Homo sapiens: one gene and its partner. The protein of the gene in region 2 interacts with the protein of the main gene of each other region in a pairwise test. Each region holds a gene or a part of one and is shown on either strand. Other genes may lie near its edges.

Region 1 (3,832 bases), on a different chromosome or scaffold from region 2:
GTCCATAGTTTCTTTGTTGATTTTCTGCCTTAATCATCTGTCTAGTGCTGTCAGCGGGGTTTTGAAGTCCTCCCTTATTATTGTATAGCTGTCTATCTCTTTTATTAGGTTGAGTAGTATTTGTTTTATAAATCTGAGTTGTCCATTTTGGGATGCATATATATTTAAGACAGCTATATCTTCTCCTTGTATTGAACCCTTTATTATTATATAATACATTCTTTGTCTTTTTACTGTTGTTGATTTAAAATCTGCTTTATCTGATGTAAATATAGCTACTACTGCTCATTTTTGTTTTGTGTTTGCACAGTGTATCTTTTTCCACTCCATTGAGTTTGTGGGTGTTTTTACCAAAGGGTGTCACTTGTGGGCAGAAAACGATCAGGTTTTGTTTTTTAATCCAATTTGCCTGTCTATATGTTTAAGTGGAGGATTTAGGCCATTTATGTTCAGGGTTAATATTGATATATGAGGGTTTGTTTCCGTCATAATATTGTTACCTAGTTGCTTTGTTGTCTCAATTTACACTACGATTTTTATATCTACATTTATAAATGAAATTAGCCTGTAATTTTTCTTTTCCATACTGTCCTTGTCAGGTGTTAGTATCAAGGGTATGCTGCCTCAAAAAATGAGTTGGGAAGTGTACTGAGTTGAATAGTGTTTACCCAGAAGCTGTGAGTGTGACATTTGGAAAGAAGGTCTTCGCAGATGTTATCAAATTAAGATGAGGTCATGCTGAGTTAGGGTGGGCCTATAGAAGATCAGGAAAATTTAGACATGGAGGAAAGAAAGCCATGTGATTAAAGTGAGACTGGAGTGATGCATCCATAGGCCAAGGATTGCTAGAAACCATAAGAAGCTAGAAGAGGCAAGGAAGGATTCTTCCCTAAAGAAAACAGAAGAAGAATGACCCTGCTGATATCTTGATTACAAACTTCTATCCTCCAGAGCAATGAGAGAATAGATTTCTGTTGTTTTAAGCCACTTGGTTTGTGGCAATTTGTTATGGTGCTCTAAGAAACTAATAGAGAAAGTGGCCCCACTTTTTTGATTCTCTGAAATGTTTATGTAAAATTGGAATATTTTCCTTGACTTTACAGTAGACCTTGCCAGTGGAGTCTTCAGGGTCAAGTATTTACTTGGTGAGATTTCTGATTACTGATTGAATTTCTTTAATGATTACAGAACTATTTGGGTTTTCTATTTCTTCTTGAGTTAATTTTGAGAAGCTATTTTTTTTACATGTTCATAATATTTTCATTATCTTTCTTTTTTCACTGTTACAATAACTTTAATTTATCTTGTATTTTACAGAAGTCTATGAACGATTTTAAAAAAGCACCTCTTTACCCCATATCATGTTTCTCTGACAGTTGTTAAAGTAGTCTATACATATGTCAACAGCTTGAGCATCAGCATCTTGCAAGGATTTCACACCAACCAGCCACTAGCCAAAGAACTTGGCAGCTTTTTTATCTTGCTTTTAATACAATGGTATATCCACTCTGATGGCAAACTGGTTTAGCCACATATCCACAACACGCTTTGAAAAATCAGTGATTAGCAAATTAGTTAGCTTTGGCACAGGGCTGTGCTCGCTTGCCCATGACAGTCTGGAAGCCAGTTTTGATACTGGCAACAGAACATCTAGAATGACAAGTTTCACACTGTAGGAAATAAGAGTTGCATGTCCTTCTGCAGGATTGTGTCCAGTGATCAGCATGTGTGACAAGTGACATACTCCTTGATAAATCTTAAGACATTTTCTATCTGTTTTTGTTGGAATCTTCCTTTACAAGTTGGTTATTACCATCTATAGAACCACTTGTACCCAATTCAACCAACAAAAATGCAAGTGTGCTGACAATATAATAGTTTACAGATATCTGTAAAGTTGACAGAAGAAGTTTTCTTGGTTCCTACTCAGACGACCTGTGGAGGTTGCATAACGAATTTCTTTTTCTCCCCAGCAACCATATCTGGATTCTTTTCCCTCATGATGTTGAACACACAATTCAGCAGCTCCTCTTATGTGTAGTCTCCTTCTGAGCCTGCCCAAGCAGGGCCTGTCTGATTACTGAATGAGATACCATCATCTTTTTTGCTATCTTCATCTTCTAGAGCTTCATCTTTCTCTAGTAGTTCATCCTCATCTGGGAACTTGACATTCTTCTTTTTCTTCTTTTTATTCCAAGCATAATGTCAAGGTCATCCTCTGGTTCAGCTGGTTCTTGAACATCACTTTCAATCTTAAGATCCTTTACAACTTCTTCAGCTTCATCAATATCAAATATCTTTTTTGTTTTTTTTTCTTTTTCTTTTGATTAAAGAAGTTCAAGTCATCTAGATCATCAGAAGCATCGTTTTTCCTACTGTCCTCATTGTCAGCTTCCAAATCTTTGTCCTCAGTTGGCTCTGGCTCCAGACTTTTGTTTCTGAGGGCTGCGTTTCCTGTTTGAGTATCCCCTTCCTCATCTAACATAAAAGGCTTCTTCTTCTTCTTTTCTTCTTGCTCACAGTAGGATCAAAAATCATCTCATCTCCAGATATGGATGCGATTCCAGTGGGCTCCGCATGGATGGGAAGTCAGACAGGTCAGCCCCCAGGCCCCGTGGCAGCGCTGCTCCTGCTGATACCTCTCCCACCACCGCACTAGGCTCTTGCATCAGCCAAAGGGCCATTATCTTTCTTAAAGGCTACAGTATCTGCAATGATATCCCTTTCATCATTCTTTATATGCATTGCTTGGTGCCTTCTCTTCTCCTTCAATCTCTCCAGAGTTTGTCAATTGTATTAGTCTCAAAAAACTAACATTGTTGTTCCTCTTGATTCAAATGTTTTCTATTTCATTAATTTCTCCTCTTTATTATTTCCTTTCTTCTACTTGATTAGGGTGTATTTTACGGTTAGTTTGTCAGTTCCTTTACATAAATACTTAACTCATTATATTTCAGCCATTTTTCTTTTCTAATATATATTTTTAAAGCTATAAATTTTCTGATAAGTTTTACTTTAGCTGCATCCCTCAAGTTTTATATTATGTTTTCATTGCCATTCAGTTCCAAATTTTTTCTAAATTCCATTATTTCTGTTTTTACTCAGAGGATATTGGAAATTAACTTCCAAACATATGAGAATTACTAGTTATATTTTTGTTATTGATTTCTAGCTTAATTGCATTGTTGTCAGATAATGTATTCTTAATGAAATTTATTTAGATAAGATTTTATAATTCAGTATCTGGTCAATTTTTGTAAATGTTCCAGATGTATTTCAGAAGAATGTATATTCTCCCATTTTGGGGTGCATTGTTCTATGTAAATGTATTAAGTCAAGTTTCATAATCCCTAATACTTTTTTAGAAGAATAATTTTTTCTGCCTCCAAACTCTAATTACATTCTCTCATCTACCTTCTTTCTTACAAAGAAATATCAAGTTCTTTATCATTCTGAGCACTCTTCCCATGCATCATCGTCATCATCTTGGGTGACAAACCTTAAATTTCCAAACAGTGAGTAAGCCATTTAATAACTGGTTAAGGTTTGGGACATTATATTAATCTCTCCCAGGCTCAAAATCTCTTCTTACCTGTAAATGAGGATTGTAGGACTAACTGAGAATTAACATATAACATGTTTAAAAATACTATTATTTTTATTATTATTATTTAATAAATAACCTACATGGTACTGGCATATAACAGGCAAGATAAATGGTAATATTATAATGATTCACATTTTTATATTTATTTATTGCCATGATTCTAACATCTGTGTCTTTTCAGACTACCATTAACACATATTAAATTTCTCTGGCTACAGTAAGGTT
Region 2 (3,832 bases):
CATTTCATTAACAAACATACTATAGCTGCATGAGGTGGAAAATTAGAGCCATCTTATTTCATAGGAAGTTGATTCATCTCATGGTAAAAGATCTACAAAAACTTATTTCTTATTCATTTCACCCTGAAATTTACTGAAATGAGACGACATTTTTAACTAAACTACAATTATTGAAACTGAAAGAACACCGAATAGGAAGTCAAGCAACAAGTGAGGTCTGTCTTCAGGCCTACTTTTGCTGTTAAACCAGTGGTATATGCTCAAGCAATTTACCTGTCCTCTCTGCATTCAAATGTACTCATTTATGGATCTAAAGTTTTTCTTTATTGCCTTATTTCTATTATCCTAACATCACTGATGCATCACTTATATGAACACTGTTAATTTCCTAAAAATATACTAAAAGGAATTTTACTTAACGTATGAAAATGTATTACCCAGTAATGACAAATAATAGCACTTTTCTATGAGTAATCTGAACCAAATTCCAAATGTTACAGTAAAGTTTCTTTCTGCCCCTAGATCCTTGGTTCTTAATCTTCTTTGTGATCAAGTCCCAAATCCTAGGAAAATTAGGGATTTTTTTTTTAAATAAAATGCTCATGTTAAAATGTTGCATAAAATTTCAAGCAATTCATGGTCTCCTAAAGCTCCACTGGACCAAGTCACCCTGTTCTTCACAGAATGTTTGCCATATAGATTCTGGCCTTTATGTTGTGAATTTGCTTTATGTTTTGACACAATGGAAGTATTCAGATATTACTAACAAAACTTTAATAAATGTCAAAACTGGCAAAACTGGGCATTTTACAGGGGGTCAGTATCTGTTAAAGTACACATACTCACAGAAAGACACACAAGAGCACAGCATAAATAAGCAAGAAATGGAAATATAATTGACAATATGTATTACCTAAGAAGCTCTGGATACAGATTCCAAAGAGATGGTACTTAAATCTTGATCTTTTTCAAAGTTCTGAGATGTAATTACCCAATTAATTTAGGTAAATAAGGACAACTCTGTTGGGTGGCTTTCTTAAAACTACCTTTTATTGGCATTCTGAAAATGAAAAACCTTATGAGGGAACTAGAAGAATTTACCTCACTGAATGTGAAATCTCTTTAAGGTCATCATTTTCAGGCCATCTTTGGTAATACCTTTTAATCCAAGACACTGATACTCACACTGACATAACTTTGTTCTAAAATCTGACAAACATTTATGAATTTGAGTAACTAAGACAAACACACCCCAGGTGTTCCTTTGCACTGCAAACAACCATTTGCTAGAATTGCAAAATGTTGATGAAAACTTCAAGTTGCAAAGAAAACTGTGGCAGTCATGTTTGAAATATTATTTTAAAATCTACCCTTCCAATGGAATCTTTACATACAAGACTTCAAATGAAACTTGGTTTGTTTAAAGTTGAAGGATGGTATTTAATACTCCATTTATATGCAAAATAAGGCAAGTGTGCCTTTAAAAAGACAGGCAACTCTTAGCAATGTGTATTAATAAACAAGCACAGAGAAATAAATACTATACTAGATTGCTGTTCTTTCTTCAGCGGAGTAGGAGAAATCACCTAGGCTCTAACTCTAAGAGGAAAGAGCAATAGGGAAGAGTATATATATATGGAAAAAAAGAAGAAAAATCAGGGTCAGCACACAGGTGAGCTAGGGAGCTCAGGTAAAATGTACTGCATGAAAAGTATTATACTTGGTGGCCCCCCCAAGAGAGAAGCCACAGCAGAAGCCAGCACATCCCATGTCCTATTGCGACATCTGTGGTTCCAATTATTCCAGCAGTGTAGTCTGGCTACTCAGGTCAAGAACAATGTGCTGCAAATACTACGTACTCAATATTATTTCACAAAATTGAAAATAATTTATACTGGAATTGGAAGAAAAGCATGGAAACTCCCCATATCCTGAATTTACTTGTGTTTTGTATCTATTTTTTTGTATACTCTATAGTTATAAGCTTTCAATGTGTATCTGTTGAATATATAATCTACTTACAGTTAATCAGGAGGCAATCAAATTATTTCCTAGTAGTTCTTACACAGTCTTAGTAGGCTGGAAGGGTTCTTACAGATATAAGGAAATTGGATCCTAATGATATTAGGTAACTTGCCTTAGGTTACACATAGTTATTGAGACAGTGAGACACAGACTAGTCAATGGACTAAAAATTCTGTATTCTTTATGTTACAATATTTTCTTATTTAAGGATATCACCAGTGTATAATCACTGCTATTATCATTTTCATCATCAGCTACATTTAATTTTTGCCACAACTCTGTAATGTAGGTATTAGTCCCATTGCATAGACAAAGGCACTTAAGTTTCAGAGAGACAGTGAACTGCCCAAGGTCACACAGCTTTTTTTAGTAATGAAAAAATCAGAATTTGAATCCAGTCTGTTAAGGAGAATATAAATGTAGATCATGCTGCTACTACTAATTTATTCATTGAAGAAATATTTGAGTACCTACTATGTGCCGGCACCATTCTAGAAGCTGGAAAAGCAGTAGTGATGAAAACAATGTCCCTGCTCTCTTGGAGCTTACATTGGGTTGAGGGGAAGGTGGTGGGAAAGAAAAGGAGAGACCAAAAAATAAAAACCAAATAACTATATCAGATAGTATTAAGAGCTATGAAGCAGGTAAGGAAGACAGAGAGAAAGACAGAGGAAGAAGGAAGATGCTGTTTTACAATGTGAAGACAAGGAAAGCCTCCCTGGTTAGGCAACATCTAGGTGGTGAAGAAGCAAGTTATGTGGATACGTGAGGGAAGACTGAGCCAAACTCAGACAAGTGCAGAAACCCTGAGCAAGATGTGAGTTTGCTCAAAGAGTGAGAAGGCCAAAGGGAGCAAAGTGAACAGGAGGAAAAATACAGGTCATGGCTGTGAAAAGACTGCAGGATCCAGATCATACAGAGCTCTGAATGGGTAGAAAGCAGAAAGACCAGTTAGCAACCTAGCACAGAAATGGAGCCTAGAAAAATCATGGCTTGGACTGGAATAGTCACAGTGGATGTCATAAGAATTGATCAGATTCTGCATGTATTTGGAAGGTAGAATGATAAAGGATTAAAAATATTTCAATACAGAGAACTAAACACAAAATTTGTCACTGTACAGTATCAAGCATTCTAAAGAATGAAATAGAGGCATAAGATAACATACTCTACTGATCAATGTATTTATTTCTTAGAAGGCAGAATGATATAATAAAACATTTCAGTATAAAGAAATCAATTATTAAAAATAAAATTTATCATTATATACTAACAAACATTCTAAAGAATGAAACAGAAACATAAAACAACTTACTTTACTGGACAATGTATTTATTTCTCGTTCAGCTTTATGCAATTTATTAATTAAAAAGGTATTTTGTTCACTGCTTGATTGTAGCTCTTTTTCCAAACGTTCTGCCCGTAAATTAGCTGATTGTTTTTCAGCCTTTCATACAAACAAAATAGTTTAAAATTCATCATTTTTCAAGTATTTCAAAATCAAATAAGCACTATTTAAAATACATTTATAATTATACTAAAATTATTCAAAACCTCAACTTAACATATACCAATGTAACAAAAATTTTCTCAAACTAATTGGCAGAATTCAAACGAAAGATAGTGTTCCAGGAAATATGCAACAAAGGCATCTAGACAAACAACATATGAATGACCATCAATAAAATAAAGTTTATACACTTCTCTCACGACAGAAAGTACCTAAGGCATTCATTTGATGTCTATTTACTCTTAACACTGACTTATTTCAAACATTTTGGAAGTTTCCAGTCTATAACAGATAAGA

The links.
Region 1: the proteins of CEP83 (region 2) and EHHADH interact in binary tests that used the Homo sapiens proteins (3 or more experiments, as listed by UniProt).

The regions. Positions count from the first base shown.
Region 1 is NC_000003.12:185,243,889-185,247,720, forward strand, and holds part of EHHADH (peroxisomal bifunctional enzyme), read right to left. Parts: intron 1-3,832. UniProt on the Homo sapiens protein: Peroxisomal trifunctional enzyme possessing 2-enoyl-CoA hydratase, 3-hydroxyacyl-CoA dehydrogenase, and delta 3, delta 2-enoyl-CoA isomerase activities. Catalyzes two of the four reactions of the long chain fatty acids peroxisomal beta-oxidation pathway.
Region 2 is NC_000012.12:94,372,546-94,376,377, forward strand, and holds part of CEP83 (centrosomal protein of 83 kDa), read right to left. Parts: intron 3,473-3,832; coding exon 3,341-3,472; intron 1-3,340. UniProt on the Homo sapiens protein: Component of the distal appendage region of the centriole involved in the initiation of primary cilium assembly.